Linked DNA regions of Homo sapiens. The protein of the gene in region 7 purifies or fractionates together with the protein of the main gene of each other region. This does not show direct contact. Each region holds a gene or a part of one and is shown on either strand. Other genes may lie near its edges.

Region 1 (4,356 bases), on a different chromosome or scaffold from region 7:
TTTTGTTTTAATTGGGTTGTCTGTTTTACTCAGGGATTTCTAGCAGTATGGCCAATATCTTCTCTGTGCTTGGAGCATTACTCTCTTCTGGGATGGCAACTTTTATCTTCATGTAGGTCTTATAGGCTGTCATTGTTCTTTGAATTGTATACGTAGTTTAAACTCCAGATAACAAGTTCTATGCTTGTGCTATTCATTGCAGTAGCTACTAGCTGCGTGTGGCTTTTGAGCACTTGAAATGTGGCTAGTATGACTGAGGAACTGAATTTTTAGTTTTATTTAGTGTTCAATTAAGTTTAAAAACTGACACTTGATTCAGTTACTGTAAAACCTGTATGTTTGGAACAACTCGGATACATAAACCTTTCTTAACCGCAAATTATTAAATTATTATTTTTTAATTTTTGGAGATTTTTTCCCCCCTGGAGATGGAGTCTCGCTCTGTTGCCCAGGCTGGAGTCCAGTGGCATGATCTTGGCTCACTGCAACCTCCGCCTCCCAAGTTCAAGTGATTCTCCTGCCTCAGCCTCCCTAGTAGCTGGGATTACAAGCATGTGCCACCACACCTGGCTAATGTTTTTATTTCTAGTAGAGGCAAAGTTTCACCATTTTGGCTAGGCTGGTCTCAAACTCCTGACCTCAAGTGATCCACCCACCTTGGGCTTCCAAAGTGATGGGATCACAGACGTGAGCCACTGCACCCGGCATTAGCTGCAAATTATATAAAAATATAGATCAAGTATTTTATATGGCAGTTTTAATTTAGCATCTGCATTGTAATGTTGTATAAACACCATATTTCAAAGACAGTATGAAAACAATGTAAAATACCTCAGCTTTTCATTATGATTACATGTTGAAATTATAATTGATTTCACCTTGTTTTCTTTTAGTGTGAACAATAGAAAATTTTAAATTACTTATGTCACTTTTACTGTATTGCTGCTGGACAGTACTTTGAGCTAGATGTTCCTATGTGTTTACCATGTCTTAATTTCTTCCTGCGTCTCTGACTTTTCTTTTGGAATCTTTTAACTTTTACTTTAGCACACTCAGTAGAAGTTTCATAATGCAGACATTCTGATGGTCAGTTCTCTTAATTTTTTTGCTTTGTCTTAATTTTTTGTTTTGCCTTCAATCTTGAAGAATGTTTTGGGGGATATTACAGATTTGTGGTTGTTTTACTTGTACCTTGAAGATAACATTTCACTGTTTTTGGTTTTCATTATTGATTTTGAGAAATCAGCTGTCAATGCATTAGGTTGGTACAAAAGAAATTGTGGTTTGGGACAGCGAATTTTAAATCATTATAACGAGGCTCTAACATATCTTTATTAATTAAAATAGGTCATTACAATCAACACATTTTTGCCGACAAGAAATAAGTTTGTTTTTTCCTGTAATGTAAAAATCCATGCTTCAGGATTCCACAAACTCTTGGAAAGCTTTTTCCTGCATCCTGCTGGTTGTGGAAGCATTTTCCCTGAAAAAAGTTGTAGAGATGCTTGAAGGAGTGGTAGTCAGTTGAGAGGTCAGGTGAATATGGCAGATGAGGCAAAACTTTGTAGCCCAGTTCGTTCAACTTTTGAAGTGTTGGTTGTGCAGTGTGCGGTTGGGTGTTACTGTGGAGAATTGGGCCCTTTCTGTTGACCCATGCTGGCTGCAGGCATCACAGTTTTAAGTGCATCTCATTGATTTGCTGAGCATACTTCTCAGATGTAATGGTTTCTCCAGGATTCAGAAAGCTGTAGTGGATCAGACCGGCAGCAGACCAGCAAACAGTTACCATGGCCTTTTTTGGTGCAAGTTTGGCTTTGGGAAGTGCTTTGGAGCTTCTTCGCGGTCCAGCCACTGAGCTGGTCATTGCTTGTCATATAAAATCTAGTTTTTGTTGCACCTCACAGTCCGATTGAGAAATGGTTCGTTGTTGTGGAGAATAAGAGAAGACAACACTTCAAAACGGTGTTTTTTTAAATTTTTGCTCAGCTGGTGAGGCACCCACTTATCGAGCTTTTTCACCTTTTCAATTTGCTTCAAATACTGAACAACTGTGGAATGGTTGACGTTGAGTTCTTACGTTGAGTTCTTCAGCAACTTCTCATGTAATTGTAAGAGGATCAATCTGCTTCAATGATTGCTCTCAATTGGTTGTTGTCAACTTCCAGTGGCCTGCCACTACACTCCTCATCCTCAAGGCTCTGGTATCTTTTGCAAAACTTCTTGAACCACCACTGCACTGTACGTTCATTAGCAGTTCCTGGGCCAAATGCATTGTTGATATTGCAAGTTGTCTCTGCTGTTTTACGACCCACTTTGAACTTAAATAAGAAAATCACTCAACTTTGCTTTTTGTCTAGCATCATTTCCATAGTCCAAAATAAATATAAACAGCAAGTAATAAGTCATTAGCCAAAAAAAAAAAGCAAGAAATGCCCATTAAAATGACATATAACATAACCACATTTATTTAAGAATGTATTCCAGGCCGGGTGTGGTGGCTCACACCTGTAATCCCAGCACTTTGGGAGGCTGAGGTGGGCGGATCACGAGGTCAGGAGATCGATACCATCCTGGCTAACATGGTGAGACCCTGTCTCTACTAAAAATACAAAAAATTAGCCAGGCGTGGTGGCGGGTGCCTGTAGTCCCAGCTACTCAGAAGGCTGAGGCAGGAGAATGGTGTGAACCCTGGAGGCAGAGCTTGCAGTGAGCCGAGATCGCGCCACTGCAGCCCAGCCTGGGCAACAGAGAGAGACTCCATCTCAAAAAAAAAAAAAAAAAAAAAAAAATTCCAATATCAAATGGCAAATTCCAACAATGCAAAAACCACAATTAATTTTGTACCAACCTAATAATTCATGCTGCTTTGAAGGAAATCTCTCTTTTAGAATTTTTTTTTGTTTGTTTCTTTTTTTGGTTGTAATTTTTCTGCTGTTTCACTCTAATCTTTTTGTGTGGAATTCTTTTCTTCTTTTTTTTTTTTCTCCTAGTCAAGTGTGGTTGTGGGGGTAGAGGAAATGTTCAATCATCGTGTGGCATTCTTTATCTTGCCCTGTATTCATCGAGATTATTAGATCAATGCATCAGTATCTTTTTAAAGATATTGGTGATATTCTTACTGTTTCTGGTTACCTGCTGAAAATTACAATCTTGCTTTTATTGGCCTAGTATAGTTGCTCCTTAGTATCTGCTGGAAATTGGTTTCAGAACCCCGTGCAGATACCACAATCCACAGGCAGCTCAAATTCCTTATATAACATGCCATCATGTTTGCATACGGCCTACACACATCCTCCCACGTATTTTAAATAATCTCTAGATTGCTTATGGTACCTAATACAATGTAGATGCTATGTAAATATTGTTATACTGTCATGGCTTTTTAAAAATTTCTATTATTTTTTATAGTCGTGTTTTTAAAAATATACATGTATTTTTAATCCTTGGTTGAGTGAATCTGTGGCTATGAAGGGCCGACTATATTCATAGTTCATTTGTTGTTTGTTGAAGATAATTCCAGTTTCTAAATTTTCTAAGTCTGTGTCTGCTAGCTTATGATATTTTTTTCTTGTGTGCCTTGAGTACCAGTTGTATTTAAAAAATTATAGGAATATATGAGTCCTAGAATAATAGTATCTTTTTTAAGAAGGTACATTTTTCTAGGAAAGGTCTCTAGGAGTGCTTTCAGTCCCAAGTCACTATTCATGTTCAAGAGTTGGGATTCCTTCTGTTATACACATGACATTAAGGAAGACTTTAAGATCATGAATTCTATTTTCCTTCAATTTCCTCTTATCCTAATGATGTTGTCCTTAAACTCTGAACATAAATTGGGTAGTTTATCTGAGTCCCCAGCTTTGTTAGGCAATGTGCTTTTATTTTTATTTTTGATTTTGATTTTTTGTGTTTATTTTTATTTTAAATGAGGTCTCGCTGTATTGCACACAATCATCCTGAATTCCTGGGCTCAAGCTATCCTCCTGCCTTGGCCTGTCAAAGGATAGGATTACAGGCATGAGCCACCACACCTGGCCTTGTGCTTTGATTTTTTTACCATAGACCGGCACATCTTCCATTAGCTCAGCCTTTTTTCTCAGCCTTTTCTTCTAGACAGGAAAATGTCCTCAGAACAAAAGTTACTTGGTGTATGGTTTGTTTCTGGTTTACCTTCACATGGAATTTGGTAAGTAATTTCACATTACTTTATTTCATTCATTATTTAGTTTTTTTGTTGGCGTCAGCAGAAAGGTTGGTCCTGTCTGCCACTACCATAAATAAAACCCTAATTGTCTTTCTTTTTTACTTCTGAGATTTGATTTTAATATATTTATGCTTTGAGCCAAAATTTTTTTAACT
Region 2 (4,152 bases), on a different chromosome or scaffold from region 7:
TAAGTCTTTCAACAAGTATTGAGCAGCTACTTTGTGCCCAGCACTATTCTGGGTACTGGGGATTCATGGGGAGGAAGATAGGCTTATATTGAATATATAGGACAAAAAATAGTTATAGAATATGCTGAAAAGAATTGATAAGTGCTCAGAAACAAAAATAAAGTTAGGGGAAAGGGGAGAGATGGGGACCGGAGCTGTGGGTACAGGAAGAGAAAAGTGAAGAGAAAAAAATCTTCATGGACCTGCAACATCGGCGTGGCCCAGGAGCTTGTTTCAAAGCCCCACACCCTCAGACCTGCAGAATCAGAGGCAAGGCCCAAGAGTCTATGTTTTAACGGGCCTCCATGGTGACTCTGACCGACACTCAAGGTTGAGAACCACTGGGATGCAGAATACTGGGATGGGGACAGGATACCATGACCATTTTAGAGTGGGCAGTAAGCTAGGTGTGGTGGCTAACACCTATAATCCCAGCACTTTGGGAGGCCGAGGCGGGAGGATCGGTTGAGCCCAGGAGTTCAAGACCTGCCTGGGCAACATAGTGAGACCTATCTCTACAAAAAAAAAAAATACAAAAATTAGCCAGGCATGGTGGTGTGTGCCTGTAGTCCCAGCTACTTGGGAGGCTGAAGCATGAGAATTGCTTGAACCTGGGAGGTGGAGGTTGCAGTGAGCTGAGATCATGCCACTGCACTCCAGCCCGGGCAACACAGCGAGACTCTTTGTCTCAAAAAAAAAAAAAGAGTGGGCGGTCAAGGAAGGCCTCACTAAGGAGGTGATCTGACAAAGGAGCAAGCTAGAGAAAAGCACAGTTCCCAGCCAGAGGGAACAGGAAGTGCAAAGTGGCTGCAGGGTGGTGAGGGGACACCCAGGAGCTGAGGCAGGAGGAGGAAGAGGCTGGGGAGGGCATGCTGGCTCTTTGGATTTTGTTCTAAGAACAGGGGAAACCATTAGAGGGTCTTCACCTGGAGGCTGGCATAGCTTGGTTTACCTGTAAGAAGAGACCCCCCGGCTGCCCTGGGGAGACTGGGATGTGCAGAGGGGAGGCAGGGAGACGAGCAAGGAGGCTGCTGTGCTTCCCAGGGAGGTACCAGGTAGCTCAGACCAGTGGGAAGTGGAGTTAGGCAAGAAGCAGGAGGCCTCCCAAGGGGCGGTGATCAGCCAGGCTGCTTTTCCTTCAGGTTCCTTTAGCAAATTTGTGAATGTGATATCAGCCAGGACGGCCATTGGCCACGACCGGAAAGGGCAGCTGGTGCTCTTTCATGCAGACGGCCAAACGGAGCAGCGTGGGTGAGTCCTGGGAGCTGAGGCCCCCCGGCCGGGGCTCAGTCCTGCTAGGAGGAACGTTGACCCAATGACAGCCACCCTCTGACTCTACCTGCTTTCTGGGATGTTGACACCTATCTGTCCCCCCTCCCAGGGCCCCCTCACCTTCCCACAGGATGAGGGTTCTGAGATCTTTGCCGATTCCAAGAACTCATCATCTTCAGCTTTAGGCCTCACCTTTCCTGAACCCTAGATAGGATACAAGGAAATGGTCACAAAGTGAGCAGGGAGAAGATCTTGGTTCCAATCCCAGCTTAGCCATCGATGACTTGTCTACCCACCTATGCCGTAGACAAGTCCCTCGGCCTCCCTGAGCCTCATTTCTAGCCCCTGTAAAGAGAGTGTTTTGGTTTGCTCTGGTTGCATAACCAGCACAAATTTAGCAACACTCAGCAGGGAATGTTCTTTTGTTTGTTTGTTTCTTTGAGACAGGGTCTTACTCCGTCGCCCAGGCCAGAGTGCAGTGGTGCAATCTCAGCTCACTGCAACCTCTACCTCTCAGGTTCAGGTGATCCTCCCACCTTAGCCTCCCAGGTAACTGGGATTACGGGCACCCGCCACCACACCCAGCTAATTTTTGTATTTTTAGTAGAGATGGGGTTTCATCATGTTGGCCAGGCTGGTCTCGAACTCCTGACCTCAGGTGATCCATCTACCTCGGCCTTCCAAAGTGCTGGAATTAACAGGCGTGAGTCACCGCACCTGGCTAATTTTTGTATTTTTAGTAGACACAGGGTTTCATCATGTTGGCCAGGCTGGTCAACTTGGAATGTTCTATGTTCAGGGTGTCCCATGGACAAAACCAAGATGCTGGTTAGGCAGGGCTCTTCTCTTATCTGGAAAGAATCCTCTTGTTTAGGTTGTTGGAAGAATCCCCGTCGCCTCCTCAGTTGTGACTGAGGTCTTGGTTTCCCTGCTGGCCGCCATCTGGGGCCTCAGCTCCTTCAAGCTGCCCAGGTTCCTTCCCATGTGTGTCCTCTCCCCCAGTTGTCCGGCCACCCTCTCATCCCCCTCGTATTTCAAATCTCACTTCCTATTCTGTCACCAGCCAGAGAAGGCTCTCTGTGTTGAACACTCCTGTGATTCCAGTGGCTGCACCCAGATCCTCCGGGCCGTTTCCCCTCCCTTAAGGATTCCTATGCCATGTAACAGCACAGGCATGGGTGTGATCTCACGTGTTCACAGCTTCCGGGGGCTAGGATGAGACATGCTTGGGGGCGGGGGCCACTTAGAAATGTGCCTGCACTGTGGGCGTGATGCTCTGCACTGTGGAAGGAAAAGGAGTTAAATGAGAAATGATGGTGGGCGCTGAGCCTGAGCAGCGCCGCTTTGTGCCGCAGCATCAACCTGTGGGAAATGGCGGAGTTCCTGCTGAAACAGGACGTGGTCAACGCCATCAACCTGGATGGGGGTGGCTCTGCCACCTTTGTGCTCAACGGGACCTTGGCCAGTTACCCGTCAGATCACTGGTAAGCACGTGAGAGCCGCCTTCGTGAGGGCTGAAGTCCAGGTCTGCCCCAGCCTGTCTCATTCAGCCAATATTGAGTGCCTGCTATGTGCCAGGCCCCGGGGGTTCAAGAGAGCAGAAATTGCTGCAGTCCCTCCCCCAGGATGCCAGTACTACCCAGGCCTAGGAGCAGGGTCAGTTGGTCAGCAAAGACCTCCCTGAGGATGACAGAATAAGAACTGAGATCTGAAGGAGGTGGTAGCTGGGTGGGGGTGGGAGAGCCTTCCGGGCAGAGGGCACCACATGTGAAAGGCCCAGGGCTGGGAGGGATTGTAGGGAGCGGAGGAACCTATAAAAGACTGGAGAGGGCTGGGCACAGGGGCTCACGCCTGGAATCCCAGTGCTTTGGGAGGCCGAGGTGGGAGGTTCGCTTGGGCCCAGGAGTTTAAGACCAGTGTGGGCAACATAGACCCTGTCTTTATGAAAAAATAAAAAAAAATTAGGCAGGCGTGATGGTGCACACCTTACGGTTACAGCTGCTCAGGAGGCTCGGGTGGAAGGATCGCAATACCTCATCTCAAAAATAGATAGACGCCATCTTGTAGGTAGGTAGGTAGACAGGTGAGAATGGAGAGAGGGGTGGTTGGGGGCAGCCTGGAGGGAGTTGAGGGGCCGTCTGGGGGTGTCCTCTCCTCACACATCACATCCCTCTACAGCCAGGACAACATGTGGCGCTGTCCCCGCCAAGTGTCCACCGTGGTGTGTGTGCACGAACCCCGCTGCCAGCCGCCTGACTGCCACGGCCACGGGACCTGCGTGGACGGGCACTGCCAATGCACCGGGCACTTCTGGCGGGGTCCCGGCTGTGATGAGCTGGACTGTGGCCCCTCTAACTGCAGCCAGCACGGACTGTGCACGGAGAGTGAGTGGGGGTTCTGGGGAGGGGGCTCTGCCCAGCCCTGCCTTGCCCTAGGCCCTCACCTGGCCTCCCCGGTCTTGTCTCGGCAGCCGGCTGCCGCTGTGATGCCGGATGGACCGGGTCCAACTGCAGTGAAGGTAGGAGCTGCCACGCCACTAGCGGATGGGGAGACGGTGGCCCCCGGCAGCCCCCACTGCTCCTCTGCTGCTTCTGTCTCCACCTTCTGGTCTGGGAAATGCTTGCCTCTTGTCTTCTGCCCCGGCCTCACCTGCACATCACTGTGTGACTCCCCTGTGGCTGCTGCGGCCCGTTCCACAAAGGGCTCGGCTAAAACAAGGGTCCCCGGGCTCTGGCTCCAGGGCCCACCTCAAATCCAGCACGGTCTTATCTTGAGATCCTAACTGCAGTGCCTCTGTAGAGATTCTGCTTCCAAATAAGGTCACGTTCAGGGGCTAGTCCA
Region 3 (4,356 bases), on a different chromosome or scaffold from region 7:
TTAAATACATGAGAAATTGTAGACCATAGAAAGTTGTAGGGGTTTTCAGGCAGAGTCTGACACAGTCAGAGGTGTATTATAGGAATATTATTTTGACAATACACGGTTTGTGCTGAAGAAAAACTACAGTAAAGGAAACTAGTTAGGAAGTGATTAAAATGGCCCAAGAAAGGGGTGGTGACGGGTAATGTCAAGGAGGGAGCAGATTTCAGTAGGACTATCAACTCACGATTAACTCCTCACTCTAAAATACCTGCTAAGTTGTCAGCTACCTTTTTCTGAACTCCTGAATCCACTAAGATTTGGGGTAAGTAGAACCAACTAGTGACACTGAATTTAGGTGGAGCACAAGGAAGAAAAATTTAAAAGGACTTCTGGGTAATTGGGAAAGTGATGCTGCTCTTACCAGAAAACTTATTTAAAAATATTTTAGCTCAAATAAGAGGACTGGAAATGCAAGTTAAGATTCTCTCCTTCCCCTATCGCCCATAAAAGAAAATCATACCGTAGGAATCATACTTATATTCAAGTATCCGATGATGCATTTTTGTTTCTGTTTTGCTGCCAAGGAAATTTCTCAGGATACCATGTATCTCCAGTATTGTAAAGTCTGCCAAGCATACAAGGCACCACGTTCACATCACTGCAGAAAGTGTAACAGGTACCTGTCTTTCTTGCTGTTCAGCGAGGACTGATCAACTAATTACTGATGTTTTCATTGTTGCTTATACTACATTAGTGCTACTTCTATTCACTGCAAGGTTACCATATTATAAACAATATTGTCAGAATACTTGTGTCCATAATCGCCATTTTATACTTAAATTATCTAGATAATAAATAGATTTAATTCTTCCTTGTTACAAGTGAAAAGATTTTCCAGAAAAATACAGATTTACTTTGCCTCTTGTCCTACAAGAACAAGGGAAAAAGGTATAAACCTTAAGTTTGTTTCCATATATCAAGATTAATTGTGTTAGTCAGCTGCCATCTGGACTAACTTTAGAATTGTTCTGAGTCTAAATTATAAGGGAGATCTGCTTTTCCCATTACTTATTGACAAACATTTACACTTTATACACATCTAATAATCCAGGTGCCTATTATCACAAATGTTTTAATATCAAAAACTTAGAAGAAAACTGACTATTAAAAATATGAAATAACCTGTGACCTTTTTTAATGAACAGCTATAATCACTGATTAGTAAGAAATTTAGAGAACCGTTGAAAGCAAATAAAGTTTTGTTTCAGGCCAAAACATTGTCTTCTATCAACAGTACACGGCAAGACTTTGTTTATTATACCATATCTTATATTCTGGAGTTAGCTTGCTTAGCTCAGAGATCCATTAACTAAAGGATACTATGAGAACAGGAAGGAAGTTACATGTGTCTATTTGAGCCCATTAACCCCACTGGAGGTCTATAAGGGATTTGTTGAGTCTCTATTGTAGGTCACTTGGGTCACTGCACTTACAAACTAGAAGAAAACCAGGAACCATGCTCATTTCTTTATAATGAGCATTATAAAGAGACCCTCTTTCAGTGGGTCTCCTGACTTCTTTAAACAAATACTTGTAGCTGACATCTTTTCCTCAGAAGCTGTTAGAAAGCCTGCCCTTTCCTGTGCTGTTTAGAATTTAAAAGGAGTCACTTAATTGTTTAAAAGCTCATAAAGATTTTTCTTTCTGTTCCATGAAGTATAATTCTCTCGTAGCTCATGGACATGCTGGATTCCTATTTGCTTGATCTTTTGAAGACCAAAGTTATTTAAAGTAGACAGGATTTTCTGCCTCATGTTTTATGTAAATTTTTCTTGTTAGATGTGTGATGAAGATGGACCATCACTGTCCTTGGATCAACAACTGTTGTGGTTACCAAAATCATGCTTCGTTCACACTGTTTCTCCTTTTAGCACCACTGGGTTGTATCCATGCTGCTTTCATTTTTGTGATGACTATGTACACACAGCTTTATCATCGGGTAAGTGAAAATGAAAATGTTTTGTTATAAAATCATCCATGCAAGATTAAATGGTAGTTATCAACATTTAAGAGGTTCCTTTTGGAAATATGCTTTCTGTGATTTAGTTGGGGAAATAGAACTTTGTTTTACTGGTATATGGGTTCCTTTTTAGAAAGCATTAAAACTTAAATTTTAAGATGAGGAAAGAGTATTTGTTCTGAAAACTTACATGCTGTAGTTGAAGGTGATAAATATTTTAGTACTGTATATGTAATTTGTTAGACTTCAAACTTAATAGTTATGGAAAGAATAGAAGAAAAAAAGACAACACTAGTGCTTCCTACTTTCATCCCATTCATGTGGCAAGTTGTAGTTCTTTGTTCATTTCTGATTCTAGTGCCCTGGAAGGTGGCTCATGGAGCAGATGCATACCATAAAATATAAACAGATTAAACCAGCAAGAGATCAAGTTGATTTATGGGCAAGTAGTCATGAGATAAAGTTCAAGGGACACAAACCTCCCTAAACAGGCCTTGAAAGTAAACGAGAGACACACCTGATGGGACTGCCAAACTGGAGAGTCTGTCCTTTGGGGAGGGGACAGCCCATATTTGATCTGCTAGCTTGTGGTGTTTGGAAATTCTAGCCCAGAAAAATCTGAAAATCTGGATTTTTATGTGAAATCTCTTGATTTTTAAATGTTGGCACCTAATTCTGAATGTTGAAACATTATGCAGGCCAGGCAGCACACATCTGTGGCCATATTTGGCCTGCATTTTATCAGTTCTTCATCACCATTTGTAAAACATGAGGGAAGAAACAACTGAATCCTAGGCAGCACTTGTCACTGTGGAAGAATACTGCGATGTAGAATAGCAAGAGAAGAGAAAAGACATAGTTCTGGTTTAGATTAGTGTCTAGTGTTGTTTATGTATGTTAATGTTGGTAAGGTCTCCTTGACACTTTCTGAGGAAACAACAACAACAAAAAGTAACATTTGAGAAAACTAAGAATGATATCCTGCACATCGGTCCGAGCTCATTACTATATTAATTAAAAATAGCTGGCCCAGCTCAGTGGCTCACGCCTGTAATCCTAGCACTTTGGGAGGCTGAGGCGGTGTGGGTCACAAGGTCAGGAGTTCAAGACCAGCCTGGCCAATCTGGTGACACCTGTCTCTACTAAAAATATAAAAAATAAGCCGGGTGTGATGGCACATGCCTGTAGTCCCAGCTACTCGGGAGGCTGAGGCAGGAGAATTGCTTGAACCTGGGAGGTGGAGGTTGCAGTGAGTCGAGATCGTGCCACTGCACTCCAGCCTGGGCGACAGAGTGAGACTCCGTCTCAAATAAATAAATAATAAATAAATAAAATAAAATAAAAATAGCTGTGTTTGCGTTGGCCACAGGGCCACGTTGTTATCTCTTTGATCAAGTTGTTTTACGTGTCACAGTAGAGTCTGACCAGTTACCATAACCAAACATTTTGTGCGTGTGCTATTGTTGCTGCGATAGCTCTCCTTTGGGTGGAACACAGTGAAGATCGACATGAGTGCAGCCCGGAGAGATCCTCTTCCAATTGTTCCATTTGGATTAGCTGCATTTGCTACCACCTTGTTTGCCTTGGGATTAGCTTTAGGAACAACCATAGCTGTTGGGATGTTGTTTTTTATCCAGGTAAGCATCTCAATTACCTCAAGTCAAAAGTGTCAAGTTGTTGGGACTGATTGCACAAGAAAGAGACAAAGCCTGTATTTAAGTGTCCAGTATGAAATGGAAATTATTTTTGCTTATTTCATTTAGGTAACTAATCTCCTTTGTATTCGTCAGATAATTTTGATTTAATTTTGCCAGAATTTCTAGGTATTGATTTAGTTTTTAAAATGCTAACTTCAAGTTAGGTAAGTTCTGGAGCACTTCAGAATTGAGAGAGCTCTTCTCACCTGTACAGTCTCTCTTGCTCTTCACATCCACCCCAATAGAGGAGTCTTACTGTTTTCCCTTCCCAACACGTGATTAATTCATTGATTCTCAAAAAGGTTAAGTGACTTACCCAATGTCACCCATTCATGTACTTGGTAAACATTTTCCCTTCCCGACAGATGATTAATTCATTGATTCTCAAAAAGGTTAAGTGACTTACCCAATGTCACCCATTCATGTACTTGGTAAACACTAATGTTATTTTATAATAGTATATATTTAATAATAGTAATCATAATATAGCTAACATTTATTGAGCACTTATTATGTGTAAGGCACTGTTTTAGGCACTTTACATGTATTAGCTCATTTAATCTCCATAACAGCCCTATGATAAAGATGCTATTTAAAGCCTACTCTGATGAATCACTTTGCTAATTTCTAAGGCTGCATAAATGATAATGAAGA
Region 4 (4,900 bases), about 42 Mb from region 7:
CAGTGCCTCAGTTTCCTCATCTGTAATATAGGGGACAATAAGCCCAACTTCATAGGGCTGTCGAAGGATTAAATGACTTACTACCTGTATGAAGCTCAGCACAGTGCCTAGCACATGGCCTGGACAAAAGTCAGCTGCGACTATGATGAGCATTATTGCTATTATTGTTGCCATACATACAATGTTGTCTTGTTATTATTTGTTCATGGGCCTGTTTCCCTCTAGAGGCTCCGGGGAACTGACTCCTATTCATCTTGGTATCCCTGGCACCCAGGACAGTGTGTGGCAGAGTGGGGACTCAATAAAGTCTACTAAAGGAAGAAGAGACAGCTTTCTCTCCATGTCTGGGTCCCCACCACCACAAGCAGCAGATATGTGCAGTGGGCTAGAGTGAGGACTAGACTTCACTTTCTTTCTTTCTTTCTTTCTTTCTTTTTTTAAGAGACAGGGTTTGGTTCTGCTGCCCACGCTGGAGTGCAGAGGCATGATCACGGCTCACTGCAGCCTGGAACTCTTGATACTCCTTCTTCAGCCTCCTGGAACAGTTAGGACTACAGGTACATGCCACCATGCCTGGCTTATTTTTCTTTTCTTTTTTTTTTTTTTTTTTTTTTTTTTTTTGTAGAGACAGGGTCTTGCTATGTTGTCCAGGCTGGTCTCCAATTCCTGGCCTCAAGCGATCCTCCCACCTCGGCCTCCCAAAGCACTGGGATACAGGCGTGAGCCACCATGCTCAGCCCAGACTCCACTTTCTATGCCTCCACTAACATAATCCATACATTGGTAAGCAGGCCAGTGACTGTGGAGTCAACGGTCTCAAGAAAAACTTGAGGGAAGCCCAGTCATTTGAATTGTTTCTGGCTAAAACTAGCCTCATATGCTTCTGCCGTGGGTAGAGCTGGTTGCCCACCTGCCCTTTCTCTTTGCCACCTCCATAGTCATCCCCACAAGCCCAGCCCCGACAGAGTCCCCTCCCTCGTCACTTGTGGCATCCTCCATCCTGGGGATCGATGCTACTGCAACACCACCAAAGTTCCACTGTCAACTCGGCCCTCAGCATTGGAGTGCCAGGGACATGCCTCATTACAGCACCAATCAAGTTCAAGTTCAAGGTCCCCATTCCTGCATCCTCTCCCACTCAGCTTTGCAGAAGCTTTAGCTTCCTCCCACTACCATCTCCCCACCCCAAACACTCAGACCTCTTCATCGCAGACTCCCTCTTCCTCACCCTAGCCCAGAGCTCTGGGTCCTGGTCACTGAGCCCCCTTTCTATCTTTACTTAGCCATGGCTCTCACCAGGCGGCTTCTCTCCTGCACGAAGTGCTTCCTAACTCCTGAGGAAAGGGTCCTGTCCTCCAGCTGGGCCTCCTTACAACAGGCCACTCACCCAACTCCCCTTCTTTCAGCCTGTCCTGAGACTCTGATCAATTAGGTACTGTTAATATAGCAGTGCCATTTCTTGAACATTGGGGAGTGGAATCCAACGTTTAAGAGAATGTGCTGAAGTCAGACACAGGGAGTTCAAATTTCAGCTCCCGTTACCATAGTCATCTGTTTCCTCCCTGTAACCTGAGTATAATAGAATCTACCTCCGATTGCTGTGAGGGCTAAACAAGATACACAGTGCCTGGGCTCACGAAAAGCATTCTTATGTTAGCCATCGTTGAGTTCCTGCCATGCACCAAATCACAAACACGTCAGGCAGTAGGCATTCTTTAGTTTACCCGGGAGGGAACTGAAGCTCAGAGGGGTTGAGTAACTTGCCTGTGATCATTACGTAAATGACAAAGGTGGCTTGAAACCCAGGTCCTGCCAGAGATTCCATAGCATTCCTGCTCTGATGTTAATATGCCAAGTAACTCAGCAAAGCAGGCTGGCAGGGCCTCTGCACTGTCTGTGTTTAGCACTCCTACTCCAAACCCAGCACATCACACCACAGAAAGAGAGAGAGCCTTTGTGGTGGGGAATAGTTCCATCAACAGTCCTTGGACTTGACTCTCAGTTGCTGCTCCAGCAATAAGTAAGTTTAGGAGCAAGAATGAAACTCTACAAAGCAGGCTTGCAAATAACTTTCTAGCCCACTTCCCCACCAGGAAGTCTCTGAGTGGTCAAATACAAACACTTGACAGGACAGTCTGCAAGACTGGGCTGGGCAGTTCTGAGGCTGGATTTAAAGGGCTGCAACCTCGCTCAGCCTGTGGGTTCCATTTTTTTCCTGAATCTCTACACCTGGCCCTTCCTCCATTCCATCCGGCCCAAGCCAAAGGTGCCTTCTCCATCAGTGCGTGCCTCAGCAGGTCTCCTCCCAACCCAGACATCATTCCCCAAGCCCGCTTCCCACCTACTCCCACACACGTTCCAACAGATCAGTGAGACCGAGTGCCAAGAAGCCAGACCCAGACTCAACTTTCTGCCACCAGCTCCCCTGCACACTCTCCTAATACCCTAAATCCACCAGGATCAAGCTTCTGAAAAGAAGCCCCTTAAGGGAGCATTAAGTCCCAGGACCCCGCATTTGCAGCAACTCCAAAAAATAATCCCTGAAGAGACTGCAGGTCAATCCACTCTCTGCCCCACCGCCACGTAGGTCCACTTAGGGGAAATCCAGAGAAGATTCACCTCCCTTGACAATTGTCAGCCCCCAGCAACACTCAGATCCCCTGACCCAACATTTCTGTGACTAAGTAGTCCCAGGGTTCTGCACTCCCCAGCAACGTCCCTTCCAGTCCCCAGCACCTCCCCTCCCAAGGACACAGAGGGAAAGCGCTAGCAATGTCTTCTTTCCTATCCCCTGCCCCCATCCTCTTCACATTGCGGCTACACTTCTGAACCCTCGGGAGCATGCAGATGTGTCTAACTTACCCAAAGAGAAAAAGAGACTGAGCCCCGTGAGGCTGAAGGCAGGGCGAGGTAGCCAGGCATCTCTGTGCATTTTCAGAGACTGAGATGTTAGTCGGGTGGGCTACGGGAGAGGGTGATTTGAGGGGGCGAGAACTACAAGGGAGGAATGGTTGGATGCTAAAAAAAAATGCACGGATGTACTTCAAAGACATATACAACATTAAGGAAGCTTTATTTCCATCTCTCTAATATGGCCGGCTTGTATGTTGCTGCTAAAAAGAGAGAGAGAGGGAGTGTGTAAAGGAGAGAGAGAGAGATGGGGGGGAGAGAAAAGGGGGATGGGGTAAATATTGTGGTTGGTGGATTTCAAAAAGCAGGTGGGAGGGCATAAAAAAGTCATTTTGAAAAGAACAAAATCCCAGAAATTTTTACCCTCTAAAACAAGAAATAATACAAACCCTGCTTTTTGACTTCACTGGGATGATTGTTGGATTTTGAAAGCTATTAGAGGAATCCATTTATTTTAAAGATTCTGGAAAGGGAAACACCTTTTATCATTTAAAAACACCCCCAGGCTGACGCAGTGGCTCACACCTGTAATTCCAGCACTTTGGGAGGCCGGATGGATTGCTTGAGTCCAGGAGTTCAAGACCAGCCTGGGCAACATGGCAAAACCCATCTCTACTAAAAATACAAAATTTAGCCAGGCATAATGTCGCATGCCTCTTGTCCCAGCTACTGCACCGCACTCCAGCCTGGGCCCTGCCTCCAGAGGGAAAAAAAAAAAAAAAACCTAAAAAAAAAAAGGAGATGCTTGTTTTTGTGTTATTGAAAAGGGTTCAGGAAAGTGAGTTGGAGAGACTTTCAAGGGGTAATGCTTTCCTCATTCTAGCGTTTCCTCTGAAAACAGAACATGTTGAAGCAGGCTGATAGAAAAATACCCAAGAGATCTTACAATTGAATGTAACACAGGCCTTTGGATAAACCTGATTCAAACAAATCAACAGGAAAGAAAAGTTTTTGAGACAATTGGGAAAAGTTAAATATGAACTACATAGTAGATTGTATTAATGAATCATTCTTAATTTTGTTGGGTCTGATAAAATGTGGTTTTGTCCTTTAACATCTCTATCTGTTAAAGACACACATGGGTGGCCGGGCGGGGTGGCTCACACCTGTAATCCCAGCACTTTGGGAGGCCGAGGCAGGCAGATCACCTGAGGTCAGGAGTTCGAGACCAGCCTCCCTAACATGGTGAAACCCTGTCTCTACTAAAAATACAAAAGTTAGCCGGGTGTGGTGGCGTGTGCCTGTAATCCCAGCTACTTGGGGGGACTGAGGCAGGAGAATTGCTTGAACCTGGGAGGCGGAGGTTGCAGTGAGTCGAGATCACTCCGCTACATCCCAGCCTGGGCCACAGAGTGAGACTCCATCTCAAAAATACATATATATATATTCAACGAAAAAAAGAGATGGGAGAATAGGTGACACGAGACTAGTTGTTTTGCTTGATAATTGAAACTAGCTGGTGATGGGTGTAAAGGGTTTGTCATATAGTTCTCTCTTCTTTTGTGTATGTTTAAAACTTTTCTTTTGAAGAAGGAAGAAAAAATAAGCTAACGTCATAAGTAGGAGAACTTGGTGGGTGGAGTCCAAGGTGGTCCTAAGCAGAGGTGACCCCCATACTCCTGGGGAGATGGTTAAGTAGGGCAGAGATTCGCATGCAGCAGTCACCTGCATTTGTGATGGGCCCTTTGTGTACCAAACAGGGAGCAACTAATATTTTTGAGCATAAACTCTGTGCCAAGCACTTTACATGTGATATCTCAATTTTTTATTTTTTTATTTTATTATTTTTTTTTAGACAGGGTCTCGCTCTGTCACCCAGGCTGCAGTGCAGTGGTGCAATCTCAGCTCACTGCAATCTCTGCCTTCTGGGTTCAAGCAATTCCTGTGTCTCAGCCTCAAGAGTAGCTGGAACTACATGCACGTGCCACCACCCCCAGCTAATTTTTTTGTATTTTTAGTAGAGGCAGGGTTTCACCATGTTGGCCAGGCT
Region 5 (4,356 bases), on a different chromosome or scaffold from region 7:
TTTCTGTCTCTACAACTATCTAGCTATGCACCCTAAACAATGTGCTTAAAGTTTTTTTTGCACCTACAATTTCCTCAGCCCTAAATTAATCTTGTTTTTAGGTCTCAATGCTTTTGAGTTTCAATGAGTCCTGCTTTGAGGGTGATGAAAACGTGAGAAACATGTAAGAACACATTGAAGATTATGTCAGATGCGGTCATATTCCTATTGATAATATCATTAAGAGGAGCTGTTTTTATAGGAGTTAATATTTAATGATAAATTGTAGTATATTGGGGTTGCAGATTGCTGACTATAGTTTATCAGAAGGTGGGAGGAATTCTCTTAGTTTCCTTCTTCCTCATTCATAAAGAAACTGGGTAGTTTTTATTTTAGGAAGAGCTCTCTAGTTTGGTCAGCTGGCTGTTATGTGAACTTATCCAACTTGCTTAACCCCTCAAGGCACCAGTTTCTTTATTGGAAACTAAAGATAAAAACACCAACCATAGAGTTTTTTGTTTTTTGAGACAGAGTCTCGCACTGTCACCCAGGCTGGAATGCAGTGGCGCGATCTCGGCTCACTGCAAGCTTAGCTGCCCGGGTTCACACCATTCTTCTGCCTCAGCCTCCGAAGTAGCTGGGACTACAGATGCCCGCCACCATGCCTGGCTAATTTTTTGTATTTTTAGTAGAGATGGGGTTTCACTGTATTAGCTCAATCTCGTGACCTCGTGATCTGCCCGCCTCGGCCTCCCAAAGTGCTGGGATTACAGGCGTGAGCCACTGCGCCCGACCCCATAGAGTTTTTTTTTTTCTTAAATAAATTGTTACAAAAAAAGCTTATTGATGACACTTGTTAAAGATGGTAAGGCAGATATTTTTTCGGGGGTGGGGGGGGCATGGCAGTAGATATAGGGACCACTATGATAGAATCTTGCAGTGGCAGAAAGAAATTAAACTCAACTTGGGGTCCCATAAAGATAAGTGGAATTTATAACTAAGGAGCTGAGTGCTTGAAGGGAGTGTCAGTGGATGGAAAATTATTACTAAGAGGAAGCATCAACATAAGGGGTTTCTGGCTAAACTGACTTGATAGCATGGCAGGCCAGGCTAAAATATCCAGAGTGGTCCTATATCAAGTGTGTGGGGGTTTTCAGTAAACTGACTGAGCAGGATTCTCATTCAGCCTGGTTTCTACAAGGACAGAGAGGGAGCCTAAAGTTCTCCTAGTCAGAAAGAACTCAAGAGTCTTGCTGAAGGTTTGGTCCAAGCAAAGAGTTTTTGTCAAAATAAATGAGAATTATGTTTGTTAAGCACCTATTATGGTGCCTAGCACGTAAGTCCTCAGCAAACTGTAACTTTATATGAACTCTTAACTTCTGTAATAGCCACATTTTAATTTCTTAAAGGTGTGGTCAATTCAGTTTAACATGAGTTAATAATTTAATATTAATTTTCTTCTGCATAGTTAGTAACTTTCTAAAGTATATATTATATAGGAGAGATAACAAATATGTAATATGATCTCTAGGGCCTGTAGCAAATAGTTATTATTAATCAGGAGACAAAATTGTTAGCTAGGCAGCCACTACAAATCAATTTAAGTTGGTACTTAAAATGTAACTTCACAGTAGCTTACACCTATAATTCTTGGGATGCCGAGGCAGAAGGATTGCTTGAGACTAGGAGTTCAAGACCAGCCTCGGCATCATAGAGCTACAAAAAAGTTTTAAAGATTAGCTGAGCATGGTGGTGCACACCTGTAGTTCCAGCTACTTGAAGACTGAAGCAGGAGGATCACTTGAGTCCAGGAGTTTGGTGTTACAGTGAGCTATGATGGCACCACTGCACTCCAGCCTGGGCCACAGAGTAAGAACATGTCTTTAAGAAAAAAAAAAAAGTAACTTTTTATTTGTAAAGCAGTGTTCTTCAGGAGCATTATGTTTCTTCTGGGGTTTTAAATCATGTAATATGACATTAAATTTTGTGGTAAATACATTCTGGTGTACTTGGTAAATCTGTGTGTATGCTTTTAATGATGACTGGTCAGGTGGGAAAGGAATAATATTAAAATAAACAGGGAATAGTAGTTCACCTGAATTGATGAATTATATATTTAATGATTGCTTTCTACATACAGGTTTACTCAGTGTTTATTGAACATGTGTCACTGAGGATATAGCAGAAAAAGAAATCTCATAGAATTTGTATTCTAGTAAAAACCTATTTTTTTTTAATAGAGAAATAAAATAGAGTAAGTAGAGAGCAACAAGGAATATTGGTTAGAAATGTCTCTGTGAGGAAGGATGTTTGAGCAGCCGTGCTTGGAGAGAGAATATCTGAGGGAAGAACATTCCAGGCAATGACAACAGCAAAGACTAGGAGGGAATGTTCTTAGTGAGTGCAGCTGGGTTAGAATAAGCCAGTAGAAAACTAGAGGAAAATTAAGAGGTTTGTAGGAGGCATATCATGTGAGGACTTTGGACTTTGACTTGTGGGAATTCATTGGAAGATTTTGAGTACAAGAGTGATTTGTTCTTTTTTCCAAAGGATCTCTCTTAGTTGCTGTATGGAGAAGAGATTGTATAAAAGGGACAAGAGAAGCCAAAATACCGATTAGAAATTATGCATTAATGCATGGTAGTGGTAAATTGGACTAGAGTAGAGGGGTGTAAAAATGTCTGGTGACATTTTTGGTGTCATAGCTGAGGGGGTGCCACTGGCATCTAGTGAATGGAGGCCAGGGATGCTGCTTAATATTCCACAGCACACAGGACAGCCCCCACAACAAAAAAATTGTCTGGTGTAAAATGTCGGTGTTGTTGATGTTGAGAAGCCTTATACTATAAGACACAGATTTAAGGTAGAAAACTTACAGTCCTGCTTTCATGAAGCTTGCAGTCTATGACCCAATAAACATCGTGTATGTGGGAGTATATAGCATTATGGTATACAGTACATGTCATGCATATGGGAGTGTATTGCAGTGTACCTACTCAGACTTAGGTCAGAGAAGGATTTGAGAATGTGACATATAAAATTGAAACCTCAAGGATGAAAATAGGCATTCATAGCTGGGCGTGGTGGCTCAGGCCTCTAATCCCAGCATTTTGAGAGGCTGAGGTGGGTGGATCACGAGGTCAGGAATTCAAGACCAGCCTGGCCAACATGGTGAAACCCCATCTCTACTAAAATACAAAAATTAGCTGGGTGTGGTGGCACATGCCTGTAATCCCAGCTACTTGGGAGGCTGAGGCAGGAGAATCGCTTGAACCAGGGAGTCAGAGGTTGCAGTGAGCTGAGATAGTGCCACTGCACTCCAGTGTCTCAAAAAAAAAAAAAGGGACATTCACCATACAGAGGGGTTGGATTAGAGTGAAAAGTGTTCCCAAACCAACGAAAAGAGTATGTGAAGATCTAGAAGTAGAAGTCTTTGAATGGATCCTTTGGAGATGAGGGAGGCGGGCAGAGTTGAAAGAGTAGTGGAAGTCAACGTAAGGGTCTTGTGAGGCATGGTAAACAGTTGTTTTGAAAGTAAGGCCTGGGCTGGGTGTGGTGGCTCATGCCTGTAATCCCAGCACTTTGGGAGGCCGAGGTGGGTGGATCACCTGAGGTTGGGAGTTTGAGATCAGCCTGACCAACATGGAGAAACCCCATCTCTACTAAAAATACAAAATTAGCCAGGCATGGTAGCACATGCCTGTAATCCCAGCTACTCGGGAGGCTGAGGCAGGAGAATTGCTTGAACCCAGGAGGCAGAGGTTGCAGTGAGCCAAGATCACGCCATTGCACTCCAGCCTGGGCAACAAGAGTGAAACTCCGTCTCAAAAAAAAAAAAAAAGCTGTAGAATGTAACTATTTCAGGTAAGTATCAACTTGTAAAAATGATTTTTAATTTCTCCCCTTTTTCTTATAATTCTTATCTAGCTAAACTTTTATTATCCTTTAGTAATGGCATTCATAACTTTTATATTGTTTTTACTTAATATTAGATCAGAAGTATTTTTCCATATAGCTGTTACTGTATTCATCAAGACACCTATTTCGTAATTTTTAGTGATTATAAACCATTTCACTCAATGGCTACACCAAAGTTTTTAACTGTCCTCTTGTTGGTGAACATTTAGTTTGTTCCAGTTTTTGCTTTTTATGAATAATGCTGGAATGAACATACATATGCAAATAACTGTTTTTTCTTTTTTCCCCCTGCATAGCAATGTTTCAGTCAATAAGTAGCTTTTTGTATTACTTCTTAAAAATTTTTTGTGTGTTGATGGTAATTTTTTTTAATATATTTTAAAATAGGTACTACCAAATAGTATCTCTTGTTTCACTTCTTGGTGAGTACTGGCTTATCACATTAATTTAGGAACTTTT
Region 6 (3,925 bases), on a different chromosome or scaffold from region 7:
GCGGGGTCCAGATGGAGGGGATGGCGGGGTCCAGATGGAGGGGACGGCGGGGTCCAGATGGAGGGGACGGCGGGGTCCAGATGGAGGGGACGTCGGGGCTCCAGATGGAGGGGACGGCGGGAGTCCAGATGGAGGGGACGGCGGGGTCCAGATGGAGGGGACGGCGGGGTCCAGATGGAGGGGACGGCGGGGTCCAGATGGAGGGGACGTCGGGGCTCCAGATGGAGGGGACGGCGGGAGTCCAGATGGAGGGGACGGCGTGGTCCAGATGGAGGGGACGGCGGGGTCCAGATGGAGGGGACGTCGGGGCTCCAGATGGAGGGGACGGCGGGGGTCCAGATGGAGGGGACGGCGGGGTCCAGATGGAGGGGACGGCGGGGTCCAGATGGAGGGGACGGCGGGGTCCAGATGGAGGGGACGGCGGGGTCCAGATGGAGGGGACGGCGGGGTCCAGATGGAGGGGACGGCGGGAGTCCAGATGGAGGGGACGGCGTGGTCCAGATGGAGGGGACGGCGGGGTCCAGATGGAGGGGACGTCGGGGCTCCAGATGGAGGGGACGGCGGGGTCCAGATGGAGGGGATGTCGGGGTCCAGATGGAAGGGACGGCGGGGTCCAGCAGGCAGGCTCCGGCCGTGCAGGGTGTGGACTGTCCCGGGGGCGCTGGGGGCTTCTGAGGGTGTCTCTGTCCGCCCTGCCCTCAGCCGCACTCTGTTCAGAAGGACCTTTCTGGAGGTAGGAGGGTGAGAATGTGGGTCCCCTGCTTCTGTGTGGCTCACATAGGATGACCTTAAACGTTAGAATTAGCTGCTGATAATTAAAACTTGCCATGAGGCTGCTCATGGACCTCAGATTTCTGGCTTCTCCTAAAAACCATCAAACCCAGCAGCTGTGGGCCCGAGTCCCATGGCCATTTCCTGGGGGTCGAGCTGTGACCCTGGGGGGCTTCTGTGCTGCACGTCCCTCCCACCTGTGCCTGGGGGTCAGCAAAGCCGAGCAGACAGGAACGAAGGCAGGGAGTGGGGGGAGCTGGCGTGCGGGTTGGAGCTCCCAGACCCAGGCTGACCAGATGTGATGGGGAAGGTGCTTTAAAGCCCTTGATCCCTGAAGGCTGGATGAAGCGTCTTTTTAAAAACCTGTTTCGTGAGCCAGCTTTTTAGAAAGAAACGGGGCTGCCCCAACCTTGACCTGTTTTGTGTTCCAGGGAGAACGAGGCAAGCCGGGGCTCCCAGGAGAGAAGGGAGAAGCCGGAGATCCTGTGAGTGCCTGACTGTGGGGTGGGGGCCCTAAGAAGCTGGAGGCGGGGAACGACTAGGCCTCGGAAACTTCCGGAAGAGTGGCTGGGTTCTGAGTGCCAAAGTCACACTGCCTGTTCCTTGTGGGTGGGAGCAGACCTGGAGGGGCCACAGCCCAGCCATCCTTCCACACAGCCCCCCAGGCAGCCCGTAAGCCCCCCTGCCAGGGAGGGGCTGGGTGGGGAGGTGGCCCAGGGTGCTCAGGCCGGCACCGTCCGGGGCCCCTGCCGTGGCTCCTTGGCCCAAATCCTATCCATAGACTTCCCTCCCCCAGCTCCACCTTGGAGGGCCTCGGCACCATGGGCCCCGTGCAGCAGGGCCCCTCTCTCGGCCTGACCAGGCCTGGGCTGGAGGGAGGGGTGTGGGGCTGGGTGGGACTGGCCCCTGCCCCTGCTCCTCCGGGGGTGTCTCACCATCTCCTCCTGTGTTCCAGGGAAGACCCGGGGACCTCGGACCTGTTGGGTACCAGGGAATGAAGGTACGTGCCCCCCCTTTCCTGGCCCGAGCCCGGTGGTGCCCTCAGCCTTGCACAGCACTAACAAGCCTTCCTCTTCCTCTTCTTCCGCTGGGTGTGTAGGGAGAAAAAGGGAGCCGTGGGGAGAAGGTGAGTGAGGCTCGACCTCGGAGCTGGTCTCTCCAGGCGCAGATGTGCCATCCTGGACGAGGGTGTCCCCGGGGATGAGGACAGTGTCCCTGACAGGAGACCACGTGTCCTGCAGACCCGCTCCACCGCCCCTCGCCGTCCCCTCCATCTGGAAGGACAAGGACAGCCACCCAGGCACCCAGCAAAGGCGCCTGTGTCACTTTCACCCCACCCCAGAGCAGGGGTCCCCCGGGCGGTTACCCTCTGCGGAGCCGGGGGTCCCCCGGGCGGTTACCCTCTGCGGAGCCGGGGGTCCCCCGGGCGGTTACCCTCTGCAGAGCGGCCCCTCCCCATCACTGTCAGTCCCCATGATTCTCAGCAGTGATGTTGTCCCCTCGGGTTGGGGGCACCCAAGCCCCTGCCTCGCGTGGGCCTAAGCCAGGCTTGCCCTGCCCTCCCCACCCCAAATACCCCCTCACACCCGCTTCCTGTCTCCGCAGGGCTCCAGGGGACCCAAGGGCTACAAGGTGAGCGTGGGCTGCTGGGAGGGGGGAGTTCTGCCCCCACGGCAGCATGTCTGACCTGCATCTGACTCCTGCCTTCGTTTTCCCGCCTCACAGGGAGAGAAGGGCAAGCGTGGCATCGACGGGGTGGACGGCGTGAAGGTGACTGGGGGGAGATAGGATGGACGGGGAGGGACGAGGAGGAATGGGGCGAGATGGGGAGGGACGGAGTGGACGGCGTGAAGGTGACCCGGGGAGGGATGGGGTGGACAGTGTGAAGGTGACCAGGGGAAGGACGGGGAGGGACGGGGAGGGATGGGGTGAGGTGATCCCGGCAGGAGGGACAGGGAGGAGTGGGGTGGACGGTGTGAAGGTGACCCCAGGGGGGTGTCTGCTAGGCAGGGCTTTCCAGGGAGGGTGTGGAGGGCATGGAGGGCACCAAGTCTGACAGTTGATTGGCCTCAGTTTACCCACTTGGCCGTCAGATTTTCTAGTTTTCTTCCTCTTTCCAGGGGGAGATGGGGTACCCAGGCCTGCCAGGCTGCAAGGGCTCGCCCGGGTTTGACGTAAGTCACTTCCTCTCACTGATACTTTAAAACTAGCGCTGTCAGCAGCACCTCGTGTGGACCGTTTTGACTTCTGTCTGGGCGGTCTGGGGCTGCTGCCAGAGGCCGCGGTGGCCTCTGCCGGTGGTGTCATGCTGCCCTCTTTTCTCCAGGGCATTCAAGGACCCCCTGGCCCCAAGGGAGACCCCGGTGCCTTTGGACTGAAAGGAGAAAAGGTGAGTGACTTGCGGCCCCTGGAGGACCAGGGCCTTCACGGTTGGCCAAGCGCTGAATTGGAAACCTCTCCTGGAAGCAAGTCCTGGTCCGAGCATGTCGGCCACCCGTGCGGCCTCAGAGGGGAGGAGCTGGTGGAGGCTGGAGGCAGGCAGAGGAGCAGCGGGGACAGTGCCCACCGTGGGGACAGTGGCCGTGGCGCTCCCGCCCAGAGCCTTCCCTGCAGCCCGAGGGCCTTCAGGCCTCCGCCATTCTGTCCCCCGCACCTGCCGCTCGCTCGGCACAGATGGGACCCCACCGCGTCACTCCTAGCCTGCGAGCCGCAGCCCAGAATGGCTCTCAGAACTGAGAATGGGCTGGGTGGCACTGAGGGTGGCGAGTGGGCGGGAGGGTGGTGAGCGGGGGCGGGAGGAGGGTGGTGAGCGGGTGGGAGGGCGAGTGGGCAGCGGGAGGGCGGGAGCACGAGGCGGGAGAAGGAGCTTTTTCGTCTGACAGCTGAGTCTGCCGTTGCTGGTGTTTTCTCTGGAGTTTCTTTGTTGAAGCTGAAGTGTTGGGGAAGACAAAGGCGAATGCTGACCCCACCCCAAACATTCCCAGACGAGCTCCTAGAACCCAGCAGACGGTTTCCAAATCTCATCTTCAAGTTCCCAGATTACCCTCCAGGCCCTAGATTTGAGTTTGCCAATTTGCCAGCCTGGCAAAGCTGTGCCTTCTCTAATGGGAACCAAATCCTGCCCCTTAGACAAGATGGCCCTTGGCTGGGCCTC
Region 7 (4,356 bases):
TGGGAGGGGGTGGGGCCCAGTAGCCACGGAGGGCTTGGTGCTGTGCTCACTGGAAGCTCAGGGGCTCTGGGAGGACTGGAGGACATAGTCCAGACTTGGGGAACCAAAGAAGGCCTCTTGGCCCATCTAAGCTGGGACCCCAAGGATGAGGAGGTCTTTAGCAGAAGAGGAGAGGGGAGAAAGTGAAGGTTTGGGGCAGTGAAAATCTGCTCAGGGAACTGAAGGAAATATGAGGTGTCCAGAACCCAGAATGTGAGAGGGGACACCGGGGAAGCAGGCTGGAGAGCAGAGCTGGCCAGGCAGGGCATGCTCCCCAGTGGCCTGGAAGGCCCTGCCGGAGGGGTTTTCACTCAGTTCTGAATATGCTAACTTTCTAACGGGCGGTGGCGTTCTGCTTTTTAAACAGCAGAACAAAGTTTCCTGTGAAAGCACAACCTGTAATGCAGGTGAGAGCAGAGCAGCTGCAGGGGCAGCGCCTGTGGCCCTGAGGGGAGCCAGGGAATAGGGTTTACCGGGTCCGGCTGTGGTCTGTGCGCCTTCAAGAGAGATGGGATTCAGAGCAGCCATCTTCGTCCATAGCTCATCACTAGCGGGTTCCAACAGTCAAAGACACTGCCCTCAAATGCCCTGTGAATGCCTTTTCTCCTGCAGCATCCTTCAGAATCGCGGTTCAGCACTCACTGAGGGAGCACCCACTGTGGGAGGCCTGGGAGTGTGGATTTGAAGGGCACAGACCCAGGAGCCAGACTCACCTGGGCCGGTGGCTTGTTCACCGTGTGACCTCGGGCATAGTACCTAAGCTCTCTGAGACTTCTTTTTCCCTTCTGTAAAATGATGATGGAACCAAGTCATTGAATTTTTGTGAGGATGGAATGAGTTCATGCCTAGAAAGTGCTGAGGAGAGGGCCTACTGCATAATGGAGGCTCTGTAGGTGGCATCTCGTTTGATTCTCAACAAAAACTTGGCATGGCTGCCATTAACCTCAAATGAGGAGACTGAGGCTCAGAGAGGTGAAGCGACTTGTAAGATCACACAGCAGAAAGGTAGAGGAGACAAGAGGGAGCAGTCAGATGTGGGTGACTGTGCGCCTGGTGCTCTTGGAAGGCTTTCTGTGTCCCTCTTTAAGACTCTCTGTCTGTATCACCGTCACTGTCACTTCTTTTTCGTGTTCATTTGTTTTTTGAGTTCCCAGTTCCCAGCACAGAGCCAGACATGAGGAGGTATTCAGTAAAGGTGTGAATGAATGAATGAAATTCATGGGTGGATTTGTACATCCCTAGCACTTGGCTGATGTCCTTAGTGAGGGAGTGAGTGAGCCTCCAGCAGCACTGGGATTTAACCCTGCTAAGGGCCTGTGCGGTCCCCTTAGCCCCACCCCTGGCTGCTCTTAGAGGGAAGGGCTGGCCCAGGAGGCCGGAGTGTGGCTTCAGTGAAAGTACAGGGCCTGCCAGGCTGCTCCTGGGGAAGTCCGCAGAGCAGTGCCGGGGCAGCCAGGCCTCCTGTGGGACTTCCTGCCAAGGCCCGGGCCCAGCCCTTGAACAATGGCAAGGGCTCGAGAATCAGAGAATCAAAAGGAAAAGGGCAAAATAAAGGTGGGGGAGTGGGCAGAAAACGAGGAATTGCATGTGGGGACTGAAGAGCTGGTACGGAGGACTTGTGTGGCCTGGGTGGAAATGTAGTCAGAGGCCCACCCTCCAAACCCCCTCTACATCTCCATGCCCCCAGTCCCTGGCCCTGAGCATGGCCTAGGGTAACCCTTAGGGTCTGTCAGCCTTCTGTGCATCCCCTCCAGGCTGTCTTCCGCCAGGTGGGGTCTCTTGAAAACCCCCGTCTGACCAAGTCACCTGCCGCTTAAAACTCTTGCTTCCCCTGGGTAATGGGCGGCTCCTTGGCCTGGGTGAGAGGCCTACTATGATGGGCTGCAGGCCCATTTCCCACCTGGCTCTCTGCCCTGCTCAAAGCATCTTTATTCCAGCTCCAGCCGTGCTCTGGGGTTCCCTGAGGGCAGGCACAGAATGGGTGGGAGTGGGGGCTGGCAGTGGGAAGGAGCCAGTGGGCTTACAGTGTTCCCCTTTCCTCTCCGCCTTACACAGAGCCATGAGACCCCAGATCCTGCTGCTCCTGGCCCTGCTGACCCTAGGCCTGGCTGCACAACACCAAGACAAAGTGCCCTGTAAGATGGTAAGATGCTCTGCCCAGACAGGGTGAGGACCACCCCCACCTCCCTGCCCTAGGGTGTGCTAGTGCCCCAGCCCCAGAAGCCAGAAGTTAGAAGAGTCAGGAGAGGAAAGGGAATGTACCTTGCATTTAATGAGCACCTACTAGAATGTTTAAACACCTTATTTACCCACAGTCCTGCCAGGTAAGCACCATTATTCTCATTTTGCAAAGGAGGAGACTGAGGCTTGGAGAGATTGGGCCTTGTCCAAGGTCATTCAGCTGGGAACAGTGAGGCTGATATTACACTGTATTCCCCCAAGCTGTCCCCACAGAGCAGTAGGCCCAGCTAGGGGATCTAGAATATATATATATGTGTGGGGAATTTGGGGTAGGCCAGCTGGGAGGGGCTCCTCTGTGCTCATCCCTCTTGGAGACAAATCCCCTTCCAAGCTGGGCTCCTTGACTTGGGACTGCCCGCTGGAGTGCCTCTCACTTCTTAGTGCCCAGATCAAATGCTGCCATCTCCAGGAAGCCTCCCCAGCCCCTCCCAGGCTGGCCTAGTCTGATCACACCTTCCTCTGGGTTCCTGCGGTCCCCAGGCTTCCCCCTATCTCAATACTGAGAAGACTGAACATGTGGGGTGGTTGGTGAAAGGGTCCAAGCCTGTCTCACCTGCCAGACCATGAACTTCCCTAGGGCAAGGACCAAGTTTGATTTGCTTCTATTCCTTTTTCCTGTCCCAAGCCAGGGAAACTAGCCCTAAAGTTCTTGTGACTCTATGAGATACAGGGCAAAGAGAACACCTAGATCCACTTGTAAGGCCGGGCAGTCACTGAGGCCAGAGCCTGGCTGGGGAAAGGGCAGGGCCTCCGGAAGCCCCTCTTGGACCTGAGACTCGAAGAAGCTTATGACACAGAACCGGCAGCTGCTTCAGGAGGCAGGAAGTGCAGGCAGCTGCCTGCCCGCAGCCCTTCCCTGGGGGTGCAATGTCTCCTGTTGCCACCACCTTTCTTGCTCTTCAGAGCCCTTCTAAGATTCCCGGAGCCCAGAATTGCGGGCAGAGAAGGCCTCAGATGTCACCAAATACAAACGCACATTCTACCTCAGGGAGACGAGGCTCAGAGGGGAAAGTCCTTGACTACCCAACAGGCAGAGGGGAAGCGGGTGAATTTTGGAGTCTGGGGAAATGAGATAAGAGATAGGAAAGCACTTTCTGAACCAGCATGGGAATAATACACACGGGAAGTAAGGAGAAGATGTGTGACCCACCAGGGACCTACAGGATTCGAACCCAGCTGCCTTTGCCACTGTTCACTGCCTGGTGCCTCTCCCTACTCTGCTTTCCTCCCATGATCAGGTGGTGAAATGGAGTTGGATGGCAAGTCTTTGCTTCTGAAAAGGAAGCTGGGCAGTGGGTGTCCTGATAGCCCAGGACAGTGGGTGGGAGCTCTAAACTCTGGTCAAGGGCCAATTCCTCCAATTCCCTCCGACGGTAAGTCAGGCAATGCTGGGAGCTCAGAGCTGAAGGAGGCATGAAGACCCTGGAAGTGGAGCTCTGAGCACCGCCCTGGACTTCAAGCTTCTTCCTGGACTGGACTGGAGATCTGGGCATCCCAGTGCAGCCCTGCCCACCATCAGGCCCCCAGGCTTCTAGAGCAGGGGTCTTGGGCCCCTGAATGGAAAGCCAGTCTTGGGCTGTGGGCTTGGCAAACTTTGTGTCCTGGATCAAGTCTCAGGGGCTGGTGCCCCAGGGAGCCTTTGCCTATCCAGAGGCAGTATGCCTCTGCACTTGCCCGGGGGTAACACGCGGGGCACAGCACGGTGCCCCCCACACTGTAACAGTCAGTAAGTGGGTCCATGATGCTCTTTGCTGTGCTGACCAGCTGAGGGCCCAGTGGTCAGAACTTGGCTGGCACCAATAGGAAAAGGAATTTGCAAATGGGAGTTTTGAGCCCCTGACTGTCTGATCTTGGGCAGCCCACTCCCCTTAGCCTCAGTTTCGTTAGGGGTACAATAGGAACAGGGTGAACAATGCCTGGGAAGATTTAATGGGGTAGGGGGTCTCTGCACTCAGCACGCAGCCTGACACAGCTGGGGCTCCATCACAGGTCATTTTGTTGTTTCTGCTTTAAGTAAGGAATGCCCCAGGGGGTAAGGGCTGTGAGGAGGAGGCTATGTTTAGTGGCCCCTGCAGA

Evidence for each region.
Region 1: the proteins of LRRC32 (region 7) and ORC4 purify together in Homo sapiens (co-immunoprecipitation; one large-scale study listed by IntAct). This does not show direct contact.
Region 2: the proteins of LRRC32 (region 7) and NAGPA purify together in Homo sapiens (affinity purification with mass spectrometry; one large-scale study listed by BioGRID and IntAct). This does not show direct contact.
Region 3: the proteins of LRRC32 (region 7) and ZDHHC6 purify together in Homo sapiens (co-immunoprecipitation; 3 studies listed by BioGRID and IntAct, with this or other methods). This does not show direct contact.
Region 4: the proteins of LRRC32 (region 7) and SCN2B purify together in Homo sapiens (co-immunoprecipitation; one large-scale study listed by IntAct). This does not show direct contact.
Region 5: the proteins of LRRC32 (region 7) and PPM1B purify together in Homo sapiens (co-immunoprecipitation; 2 studies listed by BioGRID and IntAct, with this or other methods). This does not show direct contact.
Region 6: the proteins of LRRC32 (region 7) and COL6A1 purify together in Homo sapiens (co-immunoprecipitation; one large-scale study listed by IntAct). This does not show direct contact.

What each region holds. Positions count from the first base shown.
Region 1 is NC_000002.12:148,013,741-148,018,096, reverse strand, and holds part of ORC4 (origin recognition complex subunit 4), read left to right. Parts: intron 1-4,356. UniProt on the Homo sapiens protein: Component of the origin recognition complex (ORC) that binds origins of replication. DNA-binding is ATP-dependent. The specific DNA sequences that define origins of replication have not been identified yet.
Region 2 is NC_000016.10:5,027,523-5,031,674, reverse strand, and holds part of NAGPA (N-acetylglucosamine-1-phosphodiester alpha-N-acetylglucosaminidase precursor), read left to right. Parts: intron 1-1,181; coding exon 1,182-1,290; intron 1,291-2,666; coding exon 2,667-2,795; intron 2,796-3,489; coding exon 3,490-3,695; intron 3,696-3,781; coding exon 3,782-3,829; intron 3,830-4,152. UniProt on the Homo sapiens protein: Catalyzes the second step in the formation of the mannose 6-phosphate targeting signal on lysosomal enzyme oligosaccharides by removing GlcNAc residues from GlcNAc-alpha-P-mannose moieties, which are formed in the first step.
Region 3 is NC_000010.11:112,439,820-112,444,175, reverse strand, and holds part of ZDHHC6 (palmitoyltransferase ZDHHC6), read left to right. Parts: intron 1-569; coding exon 570-661; intron 662-1,824; coding exon 1,825-1,984; intron 1,985-3,480; coding exon 3,481-3,642; intron 3,643-4,356. UniProt on the Homo sapiens protein: Endoplasmic reticulum palmitoyl acyltransferase that mediates palmitoylation of proteins such as AMFR, CALX, ITPR1 and TFRC.
Region 4 is NC_000011.10:118,173,500-118,178,399, forward strand, and holds the start of SCN2B (sodium channel regulatory subunit beta-2 precursor), read right to left. Parts: upstream 3,141-4,900; 5' UTR 2,933-3,140; coding exon 2,863-2,932; intron 1-2,862. UniProt on the Homo sapiens protein: Regulatory subunit of multiple voltage-gated sodium (Nav) channels directly mediating the depolarization of excitable membranes.
Region 5 is NC_000002.12:44,213,595-44,217,950, forward strand, and holds part of PPM1B (protein phosphatase 1B), read left to right. Parts: intron 1-101; coding exon of another isoform or gene 102-127; exon of another isoform or gene 128-163; intron 164-4,356.
Region 6 is NC_000021.9:45,987,882-45,991,806, forward strand, and holds part of COL6A1 (collagen alpha-1(VI) chain precursor), read left to right. Parts: intron 1-1,202; coding exon 1,203-1,256; intron 1,257-1,726; coding exon 1,727-1,771; intron 1,772-1,870; coding exon 1,871-1,897; intron 1,898-2,376; coding exon 2,377-2,403; intron 2,404-2,496; coding exon 2,497-2,541; intron 2,542-2,891; coding exon 2,892-2,945; intron 2,946-3,097; coding exon 3,098-3,160; intron 3,161-3,925. UniProt on the Homo sapiens protein: Collagen VI acts as a cell-binding protein.
Region 7 is NC_000011.10:76,663,697-76,668,052, reverse strand, and holds part of LRRC32 (transforming growth factor beta activator LRRC32 isoform a precursor), read left to right. Parts: intron 1-2,094; 5' UTR 2,095-2,098; coding exon 2,099-2,182; exon of another isoform or gene 2,183-2,187; coding exon of another isoform or gene 2,188-2,205; intron 2,206-4,186; exon of another isoform or gene 4,187-4,356.